3 separate regions of the Homo sapiens genome follow, and regions 1 and 3 are each linked to region 2. Evidence: fine-mapped expression QTL. A gene starts in region 2. Each other region holds a variant in brackets. All regions are shown on one strand. Distances are between the middles of the regions.

Region 1 (8,185 bases), 64 kb after region 2:
CTGGCCATGATCATACATCTGTACCCATGGCCAGGATCCAATGGGCCTCTCAATTTATCCTTAACTTGCTTATTTGCAATTTTATCCATCAAGTGATGCCACATGAGGAATTTAAATATCTGGACTAAGTAGGAGAGGTTATTGTTTGCTAAAGCACCACTGTCCCAAGCTCAAGAATGTTATGCTATTGGCATTTATAAGCCCAGTTCTAGGCATCATTATCTCAGTGGCCTTGAGACATTACCAGTCTATCTCAGAGATTCAGACTTGTCTCCTGATTGTATCTCTATCTCTTTCTCACTTCTTGGATGATTTACAATTACTTTCTCTCTGTCTGTTCCAGCACAACACTAACAAGTAAGGGCTCAGCTGACTTAGTCACACTTGAAGTCCATGAGAGGACTACAAGCCATTGATATCCAGTGCGTTCTGGATCAAGTTTTTGTTCCTTTTTTCATTTACCTGGGTGCTAGTCAAGCCTGAGGCTTAACTAATATGGGACCAAATTAAATGCTAAATGAATAAATTAATGAGCAAGGCTTAGATCTCAGTCAGACCTTGCAAGAAGGAAAGAGAGACCATCCATTAAGTTGAAGTTTAACAAATTTTAAGTTTGTTGTAAAATTTTTACTCTGATATTTGAAGAAGTAAGAGATTCATTCTTGGCACATACCTTCAGTTGTTTCTGTGAGGTTGGTAAATCCATTTTCCATGTTGTTATTATAACAGATCTGAGGACATTAATTGATATGTTTCACTAGAATGTGAGTTCTGATAAGGATGTCAGAGATGAATACAACACATTCTCCTGCAAATGCACTTTGGAAATGCCTTGTCTCACATATGGTATAAATTCTAATTGATATCTTTCACCAAGTATTCATTTACACCATGCTGTTTATGGCAGAAATTCCCTATATACTATAACTGTTGTCCAAATATAAGACTTCTCATGATAAATTTCTCTTGGCTTTGAATGTCAGGGGAAGTTTATGTCTTCTACACAACTGGTCTATGTGTTTTCGTCTGACAATAATAACTAGACAAACCATTGGATTTCCCTTTTTCTGTCTTGTCTTTTAAGAATTTCAAAGTTTGAGCATTAGGCTCCATTTCATTACCCCTCACTCCAGACTCCTAGTATATATTCCTACTGCTGACACTGCATGATTTCTGATCTTCATTTAGCTTTATTTCAGCTTTTCCATTGTTTTGAGCTTTACACTGAGGTTTGGAGAAGTTTGAGGGATGCCTCCATGAGAAACAGGAAGAATATATATTGTTAGCAAAGAGATACGTAACTTATTGCTTGAAGAGATTTGACAGTCATGTAGACTTGAACTAAAATATCAGCTTCAGTACTTGTTAAAAGTGTGAACCTGACTGAGCAAATTGCTTAAATTATCTGAACTTTAGTTTCTAAGAATAATAAAATTTTGTGAGAATTAAATAAGATAATGCATAGAGAATGCTTAGAATCCTATCCAGCACCTTGTATGTGCTTAATAAATGATATTTCTACGTAACAAATAAAAGCCATTGAGAGACAACTTTAATTTATACAAATAATTAAACAAGGAGTGTTTCTTGAATATAATAGAGTAGCTAAAGGTTCAGACTTAGAAATCACGTTATGTGGGTTCAAACCCCTACTCCATTATTTTCTATCTGTAACCTTAGGCGAGTTTTATTATGCCTTCATTTCCTTATATTAAATGACAATAAAAACAAAATCTACCTCATAGGGTTATTTTAAGGAGGCAACACAGTATAGATGCTTAAAAGTTTCCAGCACACAAGCATGTAATAAATGCTATTACTGCTTTAACTAGTATTATTATTAGTTGACTCTAGATTCAAACTAAATTTTTTAGAGATTTCTACTCCATTTTGGCCTCAAGAAAAACTGAATATAATAAATAATGAAAACTGAATTGGCCTGGGAATACAAAGATATTTTTTCTGGGTTTATTTTCACTTCCACACTGGGAGCTTTATTGATAACTTTAGAGATAAACATTTATGTGGAAGTAAATACACAACACAAGCCCAGAAAGGTACACACTGTAACTTTTTTATAACAGAAAGGAATTGTTGGGGATAATGTATTTCTCTCATGCTTCTGAGTCAAAAACCAAGCAAACTGAAATAGCCCAACACCATCATGATCGATTCCTTGTTTTTATTTCATTTTACTCTTTGCAATATGTTTTCATATTTAGTCATATCTCTTTTGATCCTCAAAGTGAGCCAAATAAGAGGACAGGACAGGTAGTTATTATCAATGATAAAGTGAAGAGTTGAGTGAAGTGACTACTCAGGGCCACCCAGTTGGCAAGTGACTGAGCTGGATTCAAAACCAGCTGTCATCCTTTTTCCTCACACTACACACATTGCCCTAAGTCAGACTTCCACACTGGAACTGTTTAATCTGTTAAAAAAAAAAAAAAGAAAAGAAAAAGAAAAGAAAAAGCTGATTCTGCAGTGACCACTGAGACATCTAAACAGAAGCCTCACCTTACCCCCCCTCAGGAGACAGGGCCATTGGACGGTCAGAGTGCCCCTTTCCTGTTGTTTCTTGTGCATCTGGATTCAGCACACAGCCCTGTCATCCCCCAGCTGTCCACTAAGCACCGCCATCAGCAATAAAGGAGTTACCACTTAATCTCTGGTACTTAAAATGGGAAATTGAAGCATATAATCACAGGATTAGAAACAGCTGAATCTAGGGACGCTGAAAAACCCTTTAGAACAAGTTGCCAAATAGTTTTGCTCTTTGCCAAAATATCTTTTCTCTTTATTTAACCCTTTCTGAGTTATAAGAGAAATGCAATTACAACCATGATATTCTCTACTAAAATGAACAGCTTCTGCTGTCTAAGAAAAAAAGGAAAGATTCAAAAATATACCTGTGACTATAATAGCTCTTGGGAGGAGGAAAAGCCCTCTTGAGTCATCCAGAGTCAGGCCACTTGGAAATTGACTATACATGTAGGTTGGGAACTAGGCTGGTTATTAAGCTACTGTATCTTAGCACCACCCACTCACCTGTTACTCTGTTACATGATTTTGAGGCTGGACTCCACAAATAAAATTTATCCTTTGCCATCTGGTTTCCTGTTAGGCTCTGCCAATAAAGGGTATTAGAGGAAGACTGCAAACCTAGAGGATGGCAAAGGGATTTGCCCCTTGCTCTTTGCTTTCTGTGTCTGTCAACATCCCCTCAGCAATAGTTCTTCACCCTAGCAGCAGCATTTGGGTCTAGGTCTTTTTTTTTTTTTTTCTAATTTCCAGAATCAGCCTCATTGGAGTCCCTGCAGAGACACCAGCACCAGCCAGGTGGCACCTCCTGCTCCGTGGTCTTGTTCTCAACTTTATGGGGCTCTTCATCCAAGCTTCTAGGTTCAACTAATCCACTCTACCCTTTGCTCCCCTGTTCTAACGGTGGAAGATATTTCCTGTAGTTTGCATATCTTTCTGGAGTTATAGTTTTCTAAATACCTGTTTAGCAATTCGATTCCCTATATTAAATTATCCCTGTTAAAATAACTGGAATGGTTTCTGTTTTCCTGATTGGACCTTGATGGATACAGGATCTAACTTTATTTGTATTTCAGATATAGGTTGGAATGGTCACTTTCCCAAAACTTTTATTAATTTATTAATCCAAGAGAACATATGATATGTCTGGCATTCTGCTGAGGACTGGGAAAAGAAATATAAGTGTCTTCTACTAATTTAGTCCAACAAACCATGAGAATACCCAGATAAACCCTATGCAATCTGAAGTGCTAAAAGAGATATATAAAAATTGCTGTGGATTTTTTAAAAAGAAAGGAGTATGCTATAACAAAAGTATCTTAGAAAAAAAATTTTTTTGAAACAAAAAAATGGGCTGGGTGCGGTGACTTACGCCTGTAATCCCAGCACTTTGGGAGGCCAAGGCAGGTGGATCACAAGGTCAGGAGATCGAGACCATCCTGACTAACATGGTAAAACCTCGCCTCTACTAAAAAATACAAAAAATTAGCTGGGCGTGGTGGCGGGC[G/A]CCTGTAGTCCCAGCTACTCGGGAGGCTGAGGCGGGAGAATGGCGTGAACCCGGGAGGCGGAGCTTGCAGCGAGCCGAGATTGTGCCACTGCACTGCAGCCTGGGCGACAGAGCGAGATTCCATCTAAAAAAATAATAATAATAATAATAAAATAAATAAATAAAAAAGGAACAATTAATTTTGTTAAGGAGGATTCAAAGACAGATAAATAAAAGAACCATACTGAAAAGATTGAAAATGAAGGTTTTAACATAGACACAGGGAAGGGAACAACACACACTGGGGCCTGTGGGGGAGAGGGAAGGGGGAGAGAGAGCATTAGGAAAAATAGCTAATATATGTTGGGTTTAATACGTAGGTGATGGGTTGATAGGTGCAGCAGACCACCATGGTCCACGTTTACCTATGTCACAAAACTGCACATCCTGCACATGTACCCTGGAACTTAAAATTTTAAAAAAGAGAGAGAGAATAAAAGAAAAATAAAAAAAGAAAAGAAAATGAAGGTTTTAAAGGGCCACGTGAATTTACTGTTTTTTCATTCTCCGCAAATTATCACAAGGACAAAAAAACCAAACACCGCATGTTTTCACTCATAGGTGGGAATTGAACAATCAGAACACATGGACACAGGAAGGGGAACATCACACACCGGGGCCCGTTGTGGGATGGGGGGAGTGGGGAGGGATAGATAGCATTAAGAGATACACCTAATGCTAAATGACGAGTTAATGGGTGCAGCACACCAACATGGCACATGTATACATATGTAACAAACCTGCACGTTGTGCACATGTACCCTAAAACCTGAAGTATAATTAAAAAACAAGACAAAACTGTAGTTGTTTTTAGTTTAAAATAGTTTAAAAACAACTATTAGCACTCTCAATTTTCATTAATTATATCCATAACTTAAAAACTATTAAACCAATCTGGCCTGTTGAATCTCTGCGTAATTCTTCCAGCCATTCAGATTACATTAATTTGTAATATACCACCTTCCACAGGAGTTGTATTTCATATTTCATAACCCTCCCCCACAAACACGCACACAAATGGTAAATTTGTTAACTCTCTTTTCAAGGAACACACACTCTTACAACATGGATTACGCAACTATAGAGCAAGCCCATGAAACCTAAAGTACATTCCATGATACGTTACTTCACTGGGGGCATTAGTAGGTAGTCCATGAATGAAGGGTACAATATATAAATAACTTTGAGAAATGCTGGACTGAGCAGACAGATTTACTTGCTGCAGGAATTTTCAAAGCTTTTAATATCCTAATATGTTTGTGAATCCCAAAGACAACGTTACAAATTGCAGCCAGCTCTCCAGATCACATTTGCTTCATCTTTCACTTATCCATCATATCCAATCAGATATTTAAGTTCCCTCTAGTTTCTTCCTCCTCCTTCCTTCTTCCCCACTGTGACCATCCAAGACTTTGTCCTGGTCTTTTTTATCTACCACCCTCCTACCTGACCACCTTGCCTTACTGCTCATCCCCCAGGTCAGTCTTCCACAACAGTCAGACTTCCACTGCAATCAGAAAACTGCAGCCCACAGACCAATGCCAAACAGTTTATTCATAGACCAATGCCTGTTTATTCATAGTTGATAAGCTAAGAATAGTTTTACATGGTTATGTTTTAAACAGTTATATAAGCACCTACATAATATCATTTTGTGTCTTTTGCAAAGCCTAAAGTATGTACTATCTGGCCCTTTTAGAGAAAGTTGCTGACTCCTGCTTGACACCCCTGTCAGATGCATTTATCCTAAATCACCTGTACTTTTTATGGTTTCTTATCACAAGTTATAATGGCTCCTGCTTGTTTAGCCTCAATGACAGAAAACCATGAACAAGGAAAACCCTCTCACCAAGCAGGGAAGTGGGGTCCTTCTTTTAGGTTTTGGCAAAGAGAAAAATTGTTGTCATCTGCTGACTCCAGTGCAAAATCAGGGAACACTAGAAGTATAGAAAGTCCCTTTCTGGGGATACAAAAATGTGCATGCACCAGAGAGTGGTAAACAGAAAGAATGACCAATTTTGTCAAAGCAGAATTACCAAACAGGAAGCAGAAGGTACAGGCAGTGATGCACTGACAAATGTCTCACAACTGGCTTTCCACTGAGATGCAGGAAAGATTTTAATTAGAGGTGAGAAGCCTTGATGTGTATCATGTGCCAATTTCCATGGTGTAAATGCTCCCACCACGCTTGTTTCAAGTTACAAATAAGACATCATGGAACAGAGTTGGGAAGAGACACACTCAATGGGCTTTCACCCTAATACAGCAGGAACAGAGCAGGAACCAAAGCAGGACCAAAAGGAGCAGAGTCCTGTTTCTCCGGGCTTCTGTACCCTGATCACTCAGGAGAAAGGCAAGCCACCCAGGATAGTGGTTAGAAATCAAGTCGACAGCTGATCCTTGACACTAGCCCGAAGTTTGGGAAAGTATTTCATCTGCTCCCTTTGTGATATGACTTTTTTTCCTGGGGGCTGGGGAGGTCCACCTTGCTCCTATGCTGAAATTCCTTCCGCTTCTTTCACAATGAGGAAAGCTCTTGAGAAGGAAAGCAAGGAAATACACACTTATCCACCCCATAGGCCAAATGTCTGATGTCAGACCCTTTCCTCGGGTCATGTTTGGTTAGGAAGACGTAAAAAAATTTGAAAACAGTATATAAGAGGAGGCATCAGAAAGAGAAAATTAGAAGAAAGGGAATTAACTACTATCAAGTGTTTGTTTTTTCATTAAGCAAGAGGTTCAGGGTTCCATCAACTTGGAAGGAATAAAATTCATCTTTATTTTCACTCTTTAACAAGTAGTTGGCATTTTCTTCATTTACAAATGTAGGTTATAAACCCACAATGTGATTTTGCCAACAATAGAAATGAGATATTTTCATGTACAGTGTTACAGTTTGGCAGGTAAATCAAAATATCATTTATGTGCTTCTTTACCTCAAAATTATCGTAGTTATCAGACCCTCAGCTTAATCTCTTAATTTTTAATACATGAACAAAGAAACATATTACATTCTAACACACATTTTAAAAAAACATTTTGATAAATGTATTATAGTGTTACCTTTGTAATTCCACATATTTTGTTTTATGAGTTTCAAGTACTTGTTCTAGGAGCCCATAGCCTTCACTAGACTGCCAACAAATATGGTCAATAAAAGATTGAAATCCCCATGAAAGACATTTTAAATATGTTACTTTAACCATCACAATGATGCTATAAGTTTTCTTGTTCTCCTTTCACTGGTGGAAAAAAAAATTGAGTGTTAAAGAAGTTAAATGACGACCCCAAGCTTATTCTGCCATTACATGGCAGGGCCAGTAATTGAACTCCAATTGGCTTGATGCTCTATTGCTCTTCCAGGCCCTTCACCCTTCTGATTGCTCCACTGGTAAAGGGAAGGAGGATTTGCTCAATGGTCTTGATCAGGCCCCAAGTCTCTGAAAAGGTCTTTTGGTTGCTACAAAGTCAAGAGCCCCAGAAAGCAGGCCAGCAGGATGTTAACAGAATGGGCAGAAAAGTAGACTTTCAGTGCTACCATTATTCCTCCTGGAGTGGCTCAGCTAAATTAAGCCAGGCCTCAGTGACCCTGTCCTCCAGATGTGCTACAGGGACCTAGCCTATGTGCAAAGGCCTGGAGGGTGTATGCATCTCCATTATACAGACAGGTCCCATGGGTTTCGTTGCATACCTCAGCTCAGTGCCAGGGAGCAGGAACACTGTGAGAAGGAGGACTTCCAGGAGAAAAGATGGGGAGGAAATAAATTCTCTCTGAGCTTGTGCCTCTGCCCTGCAGAGTGACTTTACTTCTGTCCAACTATCATCTATTGGGTCCTCTATGCCAATATGGTGTGAAATAGTATTGAGATTCAAAAACAAACAAGTTATAGTTTCTACCAACAGGAGCTCATGACTTAGGGGCAGTTACATGTCCTGTTAGGTACTTCCAGGATTCTTTGATGCTGATTCAGAAATCCCAGGGGAAGGCAGAGATGAAAACAATCTCAGGACAGTGAGATAAGAGGAACAATACATGGAAGTGCAACGAGGATGACAAAGAAGGATTTATACTGGTTACTTAGGAAAACAACAGAAGTG
Region 2 (8,175 bases):
CAGTATATAAGAAACTCTTTGATTTCTCATATGCTCTGAGACTGCTTTTTGTTTCCTTTGGTTTTATGCTTCAGCTCTGGACTTCAGTTGCCAGAGTGTGCCAGATACTGGGGTCGTCCTTAAAGCAACTTTCCCTTTCTTATAGTCATCAATTTTTAGTTGGCCACATGTGGACATTCTGGACCACATAAATAAAGACAACACCCTAGAGATGGTGAAGTAAGTTGTAAACTAAAATCCTAAGCCCCCTAATTGACTGAATGGAACCCCTCTTGACCAAAGTGACCCCAGAAAAACCTTAAAACTGAGTTCCTGGCCATGACGGGATGGGAGGTCAGACACGCTTCATTATATCTCCGTCTCTTTTATGGTTTAGACACAACAACTGACCAGCATTAATGTCAAAATAAAGATCATAAGGCTGACAGAATAGACCCTTTGTGGCAATAACAAATTATTCGTAAGATCTAAGGTCATGCCAGGCAAGTGTTATGTCATGCACTCCTACACTTAAAGAATAAACTATGTTCTAACTGCCACAAGATTTTCTATTTATTTATTTATTTATTTATTTTTTGAGACGGAGTTCTGCCCTGTCAGTTTTTCTTTTTGTTTAGCAGCTAAACAAGCACCAGCTGAGATAAGCAATTTTTTTTTTTTTTTTTTTTTGAGTCAGAGTCTTGCTCTGTCGCCCAGGCTGCAGTGCAGTGGCCCGATCTCGGCTCACTGTGAGCTCTGTCTTCTGGGTTCATGCCATTCTCCTGCCTCAGCCTCCCAAGTAGCTGGGACTACAGGCACCCACCACCACGCCCCGCTAATTTTTTTGTATTTTTAGTAGAGATGGGGTTTCACCGTGTTAGCCATGATGGTCTCCATCTCCTGACCTTGTGACCTGCCTGCCTCGGCCCCCCAAAGGGCTGGGATTACAGGCGTGAGCCACCGCACCCAGCCACTTTCTCTTGATAAGAAGACCACTGACTATGGGCTGGTTCTGGCCAGTTTATAGAGGCTAAGCACCCTTGTTCCTTCCTGTCCTGAACAGGCATTTTGACTTATAGGGTCTAATTGTTATGCATTTAAGTGTTAAGTCTCCACCTTAGGCCTGGCGTGGTGGCTCACGCCTGTAATCCCAGCACTTTGGGAGGCTGAGGTGGGTGAATCACTTGAGGTCAGGAGTTTGAGACCAGCCTGGCCAACATGGCAAAACCCCGTCTCTACTAAAAATACAAAATTAGCTGAGTGTGGTGGTGCACGCCTGTAATCCCAGCTACTTGGGAGACTGAGGAAGGAGAATCATTTGAACCTCAGAGGCAGAGATTGCAGTGAGCTGAGATGGCGCCACTGCACTCCAGTCTGGGTGACAGAGTAAGACTCCGTCGCGAAAAACAAAAAACAAACAATAACAACAACAAAAAGAGTTAAGTCTCCACCTCAAAGTGAACATGGGTTGTATGTTACATGCATGTTTGTTCAATAAGCATGAGTCAGGATGACCTTCATAATTATTCATAGCTCCTCCTGTAACCTGTTGAATATGTATGTTTAGCCAACCTATTCAGCATCAAGTTCCTACCCCTGCTCCTCCTTTGAAGTGCCTGTCTCTGGTCTTTGCCAGAGATTGTACTTCCTGGCCTGTGGGATGGCCACCTTGCAGGCCTTTAACGCTTTATAAGAAATAAAGTCTCCTCTCCAAATTTATGGATGTTGTGAGTTCTGTGTTAACAAAGTAGAGAGAAGGAATTTGGGAGACTGACAACTTTGCAAACCAGAGCCACTATAGAAGTTTGGACTTTTACTTAAGAGAGAAATAAATTTCATTCTTGCTTAAGCAACTTTTATACTGGGTATATTAGTCAGGTTGACATACAAAATTAACCATCACTCTGGGTCTCGTTTACAGCAATGGAATTTTTTTATTTTTTATTTTTATTTTTTGAGACAAGGTCTTACTCTGTCAACCATGCTGGAGTGCAGGGATATGATCATGGCTTACTGCAGCCTCGACCTCCTGGGCGCAAATGATCCTCCCACCTCAGCCTCCTGAGTAGCTGGCACCACAGGCACGTGCCAACATGCCTGGCTAATTTTTAAATTTTTTGTAGGGACAGGGTCTCGCCATCTTGCCCAGGCTGGTCTTGAACTCCTGGGCTCAGGTGATCCTCCCACCTTGGCCCCCCAAAGTGCTGAGATTACAGGCATGAGCCACCATGCCTGGACACTGTTTTTAAATAGTGAAAAAAAGACTTGAAGTACTCTTTGTGAAGATTGAGACTTCTTGCTACATAGGATTTGGAATCACAGGCTTCTAGAGACAGAAGGGGGTCTTAGGAATTCACATTTTAAAGAAGGAGGAACTGACACCCATAGGAGTTAAATGTCTTAGCTAAGGCTATTCAGTGCTCTGGTGGTGAGAGACAAGGCTTCCATCTTCTAGGCCAGTACTCTTACCCCTAGGCTAAAGGTTCAAAAATGTGCAGGCGCTGGCTTTAGTAAAATCAGCTATACTAAGCATTGTCAAATGTTTTAGCCAACAACAAAAACAATCAAGATGAAACAAAATTACTTTTTTGACTAAGTGATCACCAGCATTTCATAGACATTTATCTGACAAAGGTTTTGATCTAACAAATGCCATGTATTGCCAAGGTGAGCAAGATACAGTACTACCTATCCTGTGGTTTGTTCACAACTTAGTGGAGGGGCAGACATGCAATCAAACAATTAGAATACACTCTGTTAAAGCCACGTGTACAAAGATCTAGGGTGCTATAGAAATGTGTAAAACTAGGCCAGGCGTGGTGTTGCTCACACCTGTAATCCTAGCACTTTGTGAGGCTGAGGTGGGAGGACAGCTTGAGCTCAGAAATTTGAGATCAGCCTAGGCAACATAGTGAGACCCTGTCAGAAAGAAAAGAAAAAAGAAAAGAAAAGAAGGAAAGAAAGAGAAAGAGAAAGAAAGGGAGAAAGAAAGAAAGAGAGCAAGAGAGAAAGAAAGAGGAAAAAGAAAGGAAGAAAGAGAAAGAAACAGAGAGAGAAAGAAAGGGAGAAAGAAAACAGAAAGAGAGAGAAAGAAAGAAAGAGAAAGAAAAAAAGAAAGAGGAAAGAAGGAAGGAAGGAAGGAAGGAAGGAAAGAAGGAAGGAAGGAAGGAAGGAAGGAAGGAAGGAAGGAAGGGAGTAAAGCTGTGTTTCTCAACTGGGGAGTGATTCCAACCCCTGCCCCCAGGAGACATTTGGCAATGACTGGAGACATTTTTGTTATGACTGGGTTTGGTGGGGGGGGGGTGGCTACAGGCATCTAGTGTGTAAACGCCAGGGACACTGCTAAATATCCTAAAATTCACAGGACAGCCCCTCTAACGTAAGACTTAGCAGGCCCAAAATATCAATAGGGCTGAGGTTGGTAACCTCTGGTATAGAGCCAGCAAAATATCTTCTACAAGAGACAGGGAAGTGGGTAAAGCTTGGTTTGGGGATGAGGGGGTGGTTAGGGAAGAGTTTAGTAAAGAGATAATGACGGGGGTGTGGGGGAAGGGAAACTCCCATCCGAAGGGACAACATATACAAAGCTGCAGAAGCGTGACATATTTGGGCGATCCCAAACACTGGGGAAAGAGCTGTGGTCATTAAGTCTGGACAGCTAGGCAGGAGCTAGACGTGCAAGAAATCATATTGAGTTAGAGGAACTACTGTAAGAAAAACTGTTTGGCTCTGTGGTGGCTCTTTATAAGTCACTCAGGAGCACAGTGTTGGTACATCTCTCTGCGAGCTAAAACTGCTGAAGAAAGCTGTATGAAATGAAGCTTTTTTCATCCTGCTTTCTTAGGGCCTGGTGTTTCCCAGGCCTGTGTTACTGTCTCAGAGATAAAATCAGGGCTGCTTCATTGGAATATGAGAGGTGAACTAGCTCTCTATTAAAGCCACTCAGCTGGTGTCTTGATGGTGTGATGGGATCATGAACAGGGGTGAGGTGGTTATTTTTCATGAGTTAGGCTTAATATAGGCTGCTGCTGACGTGTATTTCCTCTTTCATAGAGCATCCTTAGTCCAGAAATGGGGAGCTATGAACCTTAAGATTAGACCACTAACTCGAATCTAAATGAGCTGCCCTTGTCTCCTACAAAAGAAAAGTTGGGCAGGTAGGGTATTCTAATGAGGGTTTCTCTTTCTCTTAAGCAAATGATGATCAAAGTTAACTGACAAACTGTCACGGAATCTGCCAGACCTCACTCTGGCCTTGCTGCTTCTCTCCAGCTCCTGAACTTTTCTTTCTTCCATCATGCTCTGAGCCCATTCCTTGAAAACTAAAAGGTCCCTGACTCCCAGTCTGCAGCCATCCTGGGCCTGCTGAGCTCTGATTCAAGTGCCTGCCTCTGCCCCTTGGTGGGCTGAAGCTTCATGGAGGTGAGTGACCCTTTTTTTTTTTAACTTAGCAGGGCTTCTAGGAATAGTGTGGAAAACAGGATCATAGAAGAGGATATGGATTTAGGAGCACAAAAGGAAATTCATGAAGGGAAGTATTTAACTTGTGACAGCTGGTAGCTACTATACTCTCTCCAAGCCTTGGAATAACTGATAATTTATACTAGAGAAGCTGGTAGGAAAGTAATGAAATCCACCAAAACATTTTGAGAAAAAATAAACTATATACTATATACAATTTACTTTCATTATCAATGTAATCATTTTATTTTAGATTTAAAAATTATTATGTATAACTTGGTTTGCTTACAATACCTTCACATTTGATTATTTTATATTTAAGGCAGAGTTGATACTTAGATAGTAAACATTTTTAATTGAATTCTTCCTTTAAGACCTCTTCAGAGCTAAAATAAAGGAAGTTATGTTCTTCTGAACTTAGTGTTTTCCTGATTGTCAAACAAAAGAAAATGGTTATTTACTACATGAAAGCTTGAAAAACTCACTAAGGGTTTTTCAGGGGCCCTTGAATCCTGAGTTATCATCCATTTCCACTAGTTTCCACTTCTTATAAAGTTTAATTTCATTATATTAATCATTAAGATCAGTTTCTAATTTCCTCTATCATAGGACCTTTAGGTTTGCTGCTACTCATCTCTGTGCTTAGCTATTGAAGCAAACAGGGCTATAAGCATTTTGTTTATAATTTCTAGGGCAAAAATAAACACTATTGCCTAAACCTACTATATTCTTATTACTTTAAGGCCAAGTCAGTGAAAATAGACACTTTTCCATAATAGTAAAAAAATTGTTTGTGTGATAGTGAGTTTCCCATTACTTCAGATGTTCAGGCAGAGGTTGGAAAGGAGTGAATTAAATGGCTTAAAATTTCTTTCAACTCTGGGAAGCTCCAAGAAGTCAGAAAGTTCAGAATCTTGCCTTCTTATGTGCAAATGGCTTGACTCGTGAAGCAGGAGTGTGTCTTGCTCTTAGGTTTAAGCTGGCTGTGCTATATAGTTTGTCTCTGTGGATGAACTGTATTTTTCTGCTCTCAAAGTTAATTCTTCATAAAAACTGCCCATCAAAGTTTAAAAATTACTTTGAAGGAATAAAGGTTGAAAAGCAACAAATGAACTCTCCTTAGATATCTTAACTATGATTTCAAAAATTTACAACACAAAACTTCTCAGGAAAAAAAAATCTCTGGTAAAAATTAAGGATTTCTTATGCAAGCTTCCATGGACTTCATAGCTCTTTGCCTTTTCTCTGCTCTTTGAGAATGTGCACAGTGAACTGAAGGAGGAAGATACATACTTTCTTTCTTTCTTTTTTTTTTTTTTTTTTTTTTAGGACAGAGTCTCACTCTCTTGCTCAGGCTGGAGTGCAGTGGCACCATCTCAGCTCACTGCAACCTCCGCTTCCAGGGTTCAAGTGATTCTCATGCCTCAGCATCCCAAATAGCTGGGACTGCAGGGACGCACCACCACGCCTGGCTAATTTTTGTATTATTATTTTTTTTTTTAGTAGAGATGAGGTCTCACCATGTTACCCAGGCTTGTCTCCAACTCCTGACCTCAGGTGATCCTCCTGCCTCAGCCTCCCAAAGTGAGGCTAAGATTACAGGCCTGGGCCATCGTGACCTGCTGATGTGCTTTCTTATAAAGTGATTCCTGCCAGCCAGGGCTTTATAAGGATGAATATCAATTCCTGACTCGAGTTTCTCTCTCTCTGCCTTAAGGTTAGACTTCTTCCCCTAAAAGGGGCTGGCAGTAGATGTGTTTCCTAAAAGATTTCCAGGTCCAGAAATTTTAGACTCTCATTTGGTTTCCAATTCTATAGCTCCCTCTAGAGCAGTAGGAAGTTATTGCAGATATTTTGCTTCACAAATTTGATCCATTTAATAAATTCAATTCCACAAAACATATTGATGGGCTCTCTGCTGACTCAGTGGTTAATAGGCTTTGGGGTCAAATAAAGAGTTCAAATCTGAGACCCACTACTTAATAATTGTGACTCTGGGAAGATACTTGAAGCAATCTGAGCTTCAGTTTCCTTAAAATATGTAGTAATAATACGTATTTCATAGGGTTGTTCTGAGATTAAATGAAATAATGTATGTAAATCCTCTTCCACAGTGAATGCTCAGTAAATATTAGCTAATATAATTAATCCCTTGTTTTACAGAAAAGGATATATTATTGAAAGTCAGGGGAATTGGCAAACCCTCAGCTAGCAAGATGAATTAACCATATAAAACCAGTCAATCATATAATATCAATAATTAATAACATTAAATATATTTTCATATCATATAACTCACCCTTTTGAAGTTTACAATTCAGTGATTTATAGCATATTCACAAAGTTGTACAATTATCACCACTATCTAATTCCAGAACATTTTCATTATCCCCAAAAGAAATTCCATACCCATTATCAGTCACTTCCCGTTCCTCTTTGCCCTGCCTTGGTAACCGCTATATATTTTAAACATACTTTAAAAACACACGGAGGGGGCAGCCAAGATGGCTGAATAGGAACAGCTCTGGTCTACAGCTCCCAGCGTGAGCGATGCAGAAGACGGGTGATTTCTGCATTTCCATCTGAGGTACCAGTTTCATCTCACTAGGGAGTGCCAGACAGTGGGCGCAGGACAGTGGGTGCAGCGCACCGTGCGTGAGCCGAAGCAGGGCGAGGCATTGCCTCACTCGGGAAGCGCAAGGGGTCAGGGAGGTCCCTTTCCTAGTCAAAGAAAGGGGTGACAGACGGCACCTGGAAAATTGGGTCACTCCCACCCTAATACTGTGCTTTTCCGACGGGCTTAAAGAACGGTGCACCAGGAGATTATATCCTGCACCTGGCTCGGAGGGCCCTACGCCCATGGAGTCTCGCTGATTGCTAGCACAGCAGTCTGAGATCAAACTGCAAGGCGGCAGCGAGGCTGTGGGAGGGGCGCCCACCATTGCCCAGGCTTGCTTAGGTAAACAAAGCAGCCGGGAAGCTCGAACTGGGTGGAGCCCACCACAGCTCAAGGAGGCCTGCCTGCCTCTGTAGGCTCCACCTCTGGGGGCAGGGCACAGACAAACAAAAAGACATCAGTAACCTCTGCAGACTTAAATGTCCCTGTCTGACAGCTTTGAAGAGAGCAGTGGTTCTCCCAGCACGCAGCTGGAGATCTGAGAATGGGCAGACTGCCTCCTCAAGTGGGTCCCTGACCCCTGACCCCCTAGCAGCCTAACTGGGAGGCACCCCCAAGTAGGGGCAGACTGACACCTCACATGGCCGGGTACTCCTCTGAGACAAAACTTCCAGAGGAATGATCGACAGCAGCATTCGCGGTTCACGAAAATCCACTGTTCTGCAGCCACCGCTGCTGATACCCAGGCAAACAGGGTCTGGAGTGGACCTCTAGCAAACTCCAATAGACCTGCAGCTGAGGGTCCTGTCTGTTAGAAGGAAAACTAACAAACAGAAAGGACATCCATACCAAAAACCCATCTGTACATCACCATCGTCAAAGACCAAAAGTAGATAAAACCGCAAAGATGGGGAAAAAACAGAGCAGGAAAACTGGAAACTCTAAAAAGCAGAGCGCCTCTCTTCCTCCAAAGGAACGCAGTTCCTCACCAGCAACAAAACAAAGCTGGATGGAGAATGACTTTGACAAGTTGAGAGAAGAAGGCTTCAGATGATCCAACTACTCCGAGCTACAGGAGGAAATTCAAACCAAAGGCAAAGAAGTTAAAAACTTTGAAA
Region 3 (8,185 bases), 490 kb before region 2:
CTGGAGTGCAATGGCGCGATCTCAGCTCACTGCAACCTCCGTCTCCCCAGTTCGAGCAATTCTCCTGCCCAAGTCTCCCCAGTAACTGGGAGTACAAGCGCATGCCACCATGCCTGGCTAATTTTTCTACTTTTAGTAGAGACGGGGCTTCACCATGTTGGCCAGGCTGGTCTTGAACTCCTGATCTCAGATGATCCACCTGCCTCGGCCTCCCAAAGTGCGGGATTACAGGCGTGAGCCACCGTGCTGGGCCAGAAGCTCATCTCTTTTTTATTTTTATTTATTTATTTATTTTTTGAGACAGAGTCTGGCTTTGTTGCCCAGGCTGGAATGCAGTGGCGCGATCTCGGCTCACTGCAAGCTCCGCCTCCTGGGTCCACACCATTCTCCTGCCTCAGCCTCCCAAGTAGCTGGGACTACAGGCACCCACCACCACACCCGGCTTTTTTTTTTTTTTTGTATTTTTAGTAGAGGCGGGGTTTCACTGTGTTAGCCAGGATGGTCTCGATCTCCTGACCTCGTGATCCGCCAGCCTTGGCCTCCCAAAGTGCTGGGATTAGAGGCGTGAGCCACCACGCCCGGCCTAGCTCATCTTTTATACTTAGGATCTCAGGGTCTCCCAAGAGTTGAATGGTTTGCTCAGTCTGTGCTGAGTTTCTAGGTAAGAATGATCTGTGACTCTGGTTTTTTTTGTTGCTGTTGTTTGTTTGTTTTGAAAAAATTTATTTATTTATGGCTGGGTGCGGTGGCTCATGCCTGTAATCCCAGCACTTTGGGAGGCCAAGGTGGGTGGATCACGAGGTCAGGAGTTCAAGACCAGCCTGGCCAAGATGGTGAAACCCCGTCTCTACTAAAAATACAAAAATTAGCCGGGCTTGGTGGCCGGTGCCTGTAATCCCGGCTAATCGTGAGGTTGAAGCAGGGAATTGCTTGAACCTGGGAGGCGGAGGTTGCAGTGAGGTGAGATCGAGCCACTGCATTCCAGCCTGGGCGACAGAATGAGACTCTGTCTCAAAAAAAAAAGAAAAAGAAAAAATTTATTTACATAAGTTCATGGGGTATAAGTGTAATTTCAGTACATGCATAGACTTTGTAATGGTCAGGATTTTCGGGGTATTCACCACCCAAATAACATATATTGTACCCATTAAGTAATTTCTTTTTATTTTTCCCTAGGGTATAGATCCTGAACATTAAGTAATTTCTCATCCTTTACCCAACTGCCATGATCTGTGACTCTATTAACCCTCCATCGGCCTCCTACACATACATACCCCATAACTGGCTCCTATTCTCAGAATTCAATACTCTGCCCTGGGCAAAACTGTCCCTATGCCAAACACATATTTGCTTGCAAAAACATCACCCAAATGCTATCACAAATCCTCTGTTAGGCTGGGCTCTTTCCCAAATTGGCTCATTCTCATCTGCAGATCAGAATCTGAACCACCAGAGGCTACATGTCTTTCTTATAGAAGCTTGCAACAAAGGGCAGAGGGGTTGGGAATCATGACATAACAAAATAATTTGGGGCCAGGCACAGTGGCTCACACCTGTAATCCCAGCACTTTAGGAGGCTGAGGCAAGCAGACCACTTGAGTTCAGGAGTTTGAGACTAGCCTGGGTAACATAGTGAAACCTTGTCTCTACAAAAAATACAAAAATTAGCTGGGCATGGTGGCATACACCTGTGGTCCCAGCTACTCCGGAGGCTGAGGTGGGAGGATTGCTTGAGCCCACAGGTGGAGGTTGCAGTGAGCCGAGATTGTGTCATTGCCCTCCAGCCTGGACAACAGAGAGAGACCCTGTCTCAAAAACAAACAAACAAACACCCCCCCCGCAACAAAAAAATACCCAGTTTGGTTAGTTTGTGTTTATTTGATAGGTTTTCTTTAACCATGTGAGATGAGCTAAAGTAATTATTTCCATGGTATCTATTCCTTGAGTCTTGGGCATTCAAATATATGTGATGTACCATATAACTCCAGCTCTGTCCATCTGTAAACACAATGGCCAAGTCAGGTTTTCCAGGTAACTAGGCTGTACTCTTCTGCTGATTTGTAAATTTTAAGGCAGTTGGGCGTCTGGCTCCACTTAGTGCTGAAATGTCATAGTGCAGCCCGGTTACTGTTCTACAACCATAGAAATTAAGGAAAGGGTGAACCATAGGTCACTTTTTAAAAAATTATTTTTAGTGATAGGATCTCACTCTATTGCCCAGGCTGGAGTGCAGTGGCAGCCCTGAACTCCTGGGCTTAAGTGATCCTCCCGTCTTAGCTTCCCAAGTAGATAGGACTACAGGCGCGTGTCACCACACCCAGCTAAGTTTTGTATTTTTTGTAGAGATGGAATCTCACTATGTTACCCAGGCTGATCTTGAACTCTTGGCCTCAAGAGATCCTCTCGCCTCAGTCTCCCAAAGTGCTGGAATTATAGGCATGAACCACTACACCCAGCCTACAGGTCACTTTTCTGACTAAGACAGATATGTGACAATTACAGACAATCTGAGAAGTTGAAGATCAAATCCTATAGTGTTTGTGGTGAAAATAATAAAAACTAGGGGCAAAGCCTATGAGAACAGAACTGAGTTGAGAGAGAGGAGAATCTCTGGCCCTCTCTGATAAATCAGTTTGAGTTCCTGGTCTGTATTCTTTGCTTTCTAGATAGTATTACAGATCCTTTTAAAATAAACTGTCCTAATGCCACTGCAAGACTGTATGGAGGAGGGAAGAGGGCCCAGAGAGAGGCTAGAATCAGAAGTTGGAGGTATCATTGTGTTAGCCCAAATTTTGGGTTTACTATACACAAAAAATTTGATGATAAATTATTGGGCTAGTTTAAATTTGCTAAACCGTAGAAGGGGCCCTGTCTGTCATTAATAAACATTTTTTAAAGTACTAATGATATACTATGTTGAATTTCTTTCAAACATTGCACCGTAAAACACATTTGGTCTCCATTGCTGCTCTCTATCCATCAAGAATTGGGTCAAGTCAAACACTAAAATTTGAGTGCACAATGAGACATCAGACTCTCAAAAAGAGAGAGACAGAAATAAGGAAACAGGCCATTCAAAAAAGAGGAAAACCACTTCTCTGTTGATCTTGGTTTTCAATTCACTCTGTCCTTTCCTGGCTCCCACATAAATATCTCTGTAGTCACAATTTTTTTTTTTTTGAGATGGAGTCTCATTCTGTCACCCAGGCTGTAGTGCCGTGGCACAATCTTATCTCACTGTAACCTCCACCTCATGGGTTCAAGCAATTCTCTGCCTCAGCCTCCTAAGTAGCTGGGAGTACAGGCGCCCGCCACCATGCCCAGCTAATTTTTTTGTGTTTTCAGTAGAGACGGGGTTTCACCATCTTGGCCAGGTTGGTATTGAACTCCTGACCTCGTGATCCACCCGCCTCGGCCTCCCAAAGTGCTGGGATTACAGGCGTGAGCCACCA[C/T]GCCCAGCCTTGTATTCACATTATTTATTTATTTTTTATTTTTTTATTTTTTGAGATGGAGTCTCGCTCCATGGCCCAGGCTGGAGTGCAGTGGCGCGATCTTGGCTTACTGCAAGCTCCACCTCCCAGGTTCACGCCATTCTCCTGCCTCAGCCTCCCGAGTAGCTGGGACTACAGGCGCCTGCCACCACGCCTGGCAAATTTTTTGTATTTTTAGTAGAGACGGAGTTTCACTGTGTTAGCCAGGATGGTCTCGATCTCCTAACCTCATGATCCACCCACCTCGGCCTCCCAAACATTATTATACTCACTTAAATTTTAGATTCCAGTTTGATCTGAGGAAGTCTTTTTTTTTTTTCTTTTTTTGGAGACGGAGTCTCGTTCTGTCGCCCAGGCTGGAGTGCAGTGGCAGGATCTTGGTTCACTGCATCCTCCGCCTCCCGGGTTCAAGGGATTCTCCTGCCTCAGCCTCCCGAGTAGCTGGGACTACAGGTGGGTGCCACCAAGCCCGGCTAATTTTTTTGTGTGTATTTTTAGCAGAGACAGGGTTTCACTGTGACTCCATCTCCTGACCTCGTGATCCACCTGCCTCGACCTCCTAAAGTGCTGGGATTACAGGTGTGAGCCACTGCACCTGGCCGAGAAAATAATTTTTTTTTTTTTGAGATAGGATCTTACTCTGTTGCCCAGGCTGGAGTTTAGTAGTGTGGTCTCGGCTTACCGCAACTTCCGCCTCTGGGCTCAAGTAATCCTCCCACCTCAGCCTCCCAAGTAACTGGGACTATAGGTGCACAGCACCATGCCTGGCTAATTTTTGTATTTTTTGTAGAGACAGGGTTTTGCCTTGTTGCCCAGGCTAGTCTCGAACTCCTCGGGCTCAAGCGATCCTCTAGCTTCTGCTTCCTAAAGTGTTGGGATCACAGGCGTGAGCCACTGCGCCCAGCCTGAGAAAGTCATTTTAAAACTATTTTTTTCTTTAGCTCCAGGTTCCATAAATGATAGTGTAGGTATCATTCTCCTCAAGAGCAGATACTAAATCTGTTACTTCCCAGGTAGAGCTTGCAGCATGTATTCTTCGTATGTAATGGGTACTCCATGAATCTCCTGACTGATGAACAGGAGGATGACACCGAGCAAATCAGCAGACTCTTCAACATGAATTGCTTCTACATAATAGTTTGTGTTGATTTAGGAACCATTATATGGCTTTGGAGAAAAAAAAAAATTGATCCTGGCTTATTTTTATTTTAATAGAGACAAAACTTTCATTTTATGTCTGAAAGAGAGAGGTCACGCTTATTACCAGTATAATCTTTGGGTTTTCTGAATGAATGGAGTCATAGAAATGAGGCTGCATCTGAGTAAATACATTAATCTGGTTCCAGGCTTAGTGTTTTGGCTAGTACAATTTCAATTGTTCATTGTTATTCCTTAAATAGGCCTCTCTGTGTAATCACAAAAACAATTTCTTAACAACCATTATCAAATAATTAAAGGGATAGGATACAGCGCCGTTGTGCTATGATACAAAGATAACACTATTATATTTATATAAAACTTTATAGTTAACAAAGTACTTTTCCATCTTATGACACCTTAATCATCTAATCTTTGTGAGTCCATGATACAGATATTATTACTATTACCACCCATTTTATAGATGAGTAAACTGAGACTTAGAGAGGTCAGGTAACTTGTGCCAAAAAAAAAAAAAAAAAAACAAGCCCTGTCCACCTAAGTCCCATCCTTTCCCCCTTGTTGGTATATTTGTCATGCCTTGATCCTTCAGTGTAATTTGGGACAATTATAATGTTTGGATGATAAGAATAAGGAAAAAAAAGTTAAAATGTCAACTGAGGAAGAAAATTAAATAAAAATATAATTTTAATTAATTTAAAGAATTTAATTAATAAACAGCTTCCTAGATGACAGTGTCTACGTAGATTTATAAAAATGATCTAAAAAGAAAAGAAAGGGATGTAAGTGTATCGAAGGGACACAGAAGCTAACCTGAACAAGCTCCCAATAGCAAAAGCTGGAATAATTTGATCAACAAAACCATATAATGGGCTCGGCATGGTGGCAGCTCACGCCTATAATCCCAGCACTTTGGGAGGTCGAGGTGGGCAAATCACTTGAGGCCAGGAGTTTGAGACCAGCCTGGCCAACATGGAGAAACCTCATCTCTACTAGAAAAAAAAAATACAAAAATTAGCCAGGCATGGTGGCACATGCCTGTAATTCCAGCTACTCGGGAGGCTGAGATGTGAGAATCACTTGAACCCAGGAAGCAGAGGTTGCAGTAAGCCGAGATTGCACCACTGCACTCCAGCCTGGGCAACACAGCTAGACTCTTCTTAAAATGATAGATAGATAGATAGATAGATAGATAGATAGATAGATAGATGATAGATAGATAGGTAGATAGATAGATAGTATTATAAGCCAAAGAATATAATAAATATCTATGAGTCCACACAGATATAAATGAAGGACTAAATAAATAAATAGGAGAAAAGGAACAATTGTTCCTTGCAGAAGAATTCCAGTTAACAGTGTAGAAAAAATGAGGGAAACAGAAAATTACAGTTAGAAAACCACAATAGTGGCTGGGTGCGGTGGCTCATGCCTGTAATCCCAGCATTTTGGGAGGCCAAGGCCGGTGGGTCACCTGAGGTCAGGAGTTCGACACCAGCCTGGCCAACATGGTGAAGCCCATCTCTACTAAAAATACAAAAATTAGCCAGGCATCGTGGTGGCTGCCTGTAATCCCAGCTACTCGTGAGGCTGAGACAGGAGAATTGCTTGAACCCAGGAGGCAGAGGTTGCAGTGAGCTGAGGTTGCACCACTGTACTCCAGCCTGGGCAACATGAGCGAAACTCCATCTCAAAAAACAAAAACAAAAACAAAAAACCAGAAAACCACAATAGTAATTGCTACAGGCAAGATCAATTGAATGTTAAAATGAGTGGATGTAGTGAAATCTAAATAGAGTACAGAGTTTATAGTTTAATGTATCAATGTTGGTTTAATAGTTGTGACAAATGTACAGGGAAGATATTAACAATAGGGGAAAATGGCTACTATGTACTATTTTTGCAACTTTTCTGTAAATCTAAAACCATTCTAAAATGAAAAGTTTATTTAGGCCAGCCCAACTTTTCTCTAAATCTAAAACTATTCTCAAACAAAAAGTTTAATTAGGGTGGGTGTGGTGGCTTATACCTGTAATCCCAGTTCTGTGGGAGGCCGAGGCAGGAGAATCACTTGAGCCCAGGAGTTCAAGACCAGATTGGGTAACATAGCAAGACCCTGTCTCTAACAGAAAGAAAAGAAAAGCAATGAAAAAAGAAAAGAAAAGATCATTTAAAAGCTGGACACAGTGGCTCACACCTGTAATCCCAGCACTTTGGGAGGCTGAGGCGGGCGGATCACGAGGTCAAGAAATCGAGACCATCCTGGCCAACATGGTGAAACCCTGTCTCTACAAAAAATACAAAAATTAGCTGGGCGTTGTGGCATACGCCTGTAGTCCCAGCTACTTGGGAGGCTGAGGCAGGAGAACCGCTTGAACCTGGGAGGCGGAGGTTGCAGTGAGCCGAGATTGCACCACTGCACTTCAGCCTGGGTGACAGAGCAAGACTCCATCTCAAAAAAAAAAAGAAAGAAAAAGAAAAGTTGGTTTAAAAAATAAAAAACTAATGGGTAAAGTGTTAAGGAGAAACCAGATATTTGCATAGCCCCAAAATATCTTCTGAAAAATATTTGTTAGTTACAAAGAAAAAATAGTAACCTTACAGTGGAGAAACCTGGCAGATACCACCTTAGCCAAACGATCGAAGTTAATAACACCAGTAATTAGACATGTCAACAGCATGTACTCCTAATAGGATGCATTGAGAAGGGCATGTTCCCTCTGTGATATTTTTTCTCCCAAATTTATAAACTTAATCTAATAATGAGAAAACATCCAGACCAACCCAAATTGAGGAAAATTCTAGCAAATTCCTGATTGGTACTATTCAAAAGTGTCAAGGTAGTTAAAGACAAGGAAAGAATGAAGAACCATCAGAAATTGAAGGAAACTAGGGAGATGTGACAACCAAACGCAATGTGGGATCCTAGATCAGATCCTGGAACAGAAAAAGAGCGTTAGTGAAAATTGGTGATATTCAAATAAAGTCTATTTTGTAGTTAATAGTATTGTACCAATGATAATTTCCTAGTTTTGATAAATGTACTATGGTTCGGTAAGATGTTAACATGTGAAATAAAGGGTATATGGGAACAGTTTATTCTATCTTTGCAACTCTTCTGTAAGCCTAAAATTATTTCAGAAATTTAAAAAATTCGGCCAGATGCGGTGGCTCATGCCTGTAATCCCAGCACTTTGGGAGGCTGAGGCGGGTGGATCACCTGAGGTCAGGAGTTCGAGACCAGTCTTGCCAACATGGCGAAACCCCGTCTCTACTAAAAATACAAAAAATTAGCTGGGCATGATAGTGGGCACCTGTAATCCCAGCTACTTGGGAGGCTGAGAAGGAGAATTGCTTGAACCCAGGAGGCGGAGGTTGCAGTGAGCTGAGATCGCGCCATTGTACTCCAGTCTGGGTGACAGAGCGACACCCTGTCAAAAAAAAAATTCATAACAAATTTAAATTGTATATAAATGATACACAAATTAAGTCTGCTTCCTATGGCTGACCTGTGCCTTCTGGAAAGTCCTATTAGG

The links.
Region 1: its variant is fine-mapped to the expression of TRIM69 in whole blood (INTERVAL, PIP above 0.99).
Region 3: its variant is fine-mapped to the expression of TRIM69 in coronary artery (GTEx, PIP 0.94).

What each region holds. Positions count from the first base shown.
Region 1 is chr15:44,796,399-44,804,583 of GRCh38, forward strand. No RefSeq gene overlaps it. Among named protein-coding and RNA genes, the nearest start is that of TRIM69, 64 kb to the left of the region's middle. The variant G/A (reference allele first, on the strand shown) is at 4,049.
Region 2 is chr15:44,732,310-44,740,484 of GRCh38, forward strand. It overlaps TRIM69 (tripartite motif containing 69), which reads left to right and starts at 4,219. Exons shown (of 7, transcript NM_182985.5): 1 at 4,219-4,401. The coding sequence starts at 4,396. It also overlaps the pseudogene RNF4BP.
Region 3 is chr15:44,241,933-44,250,117 of GRCh38, forward strand. No RefSeq gene overlaps it. Among named protein-coding and RNA genes, the nearest start is that of GOLM2, 43 kb to the right of the region's middle. The variant C/T (reference allele first, on the strand shown) is at 3,453.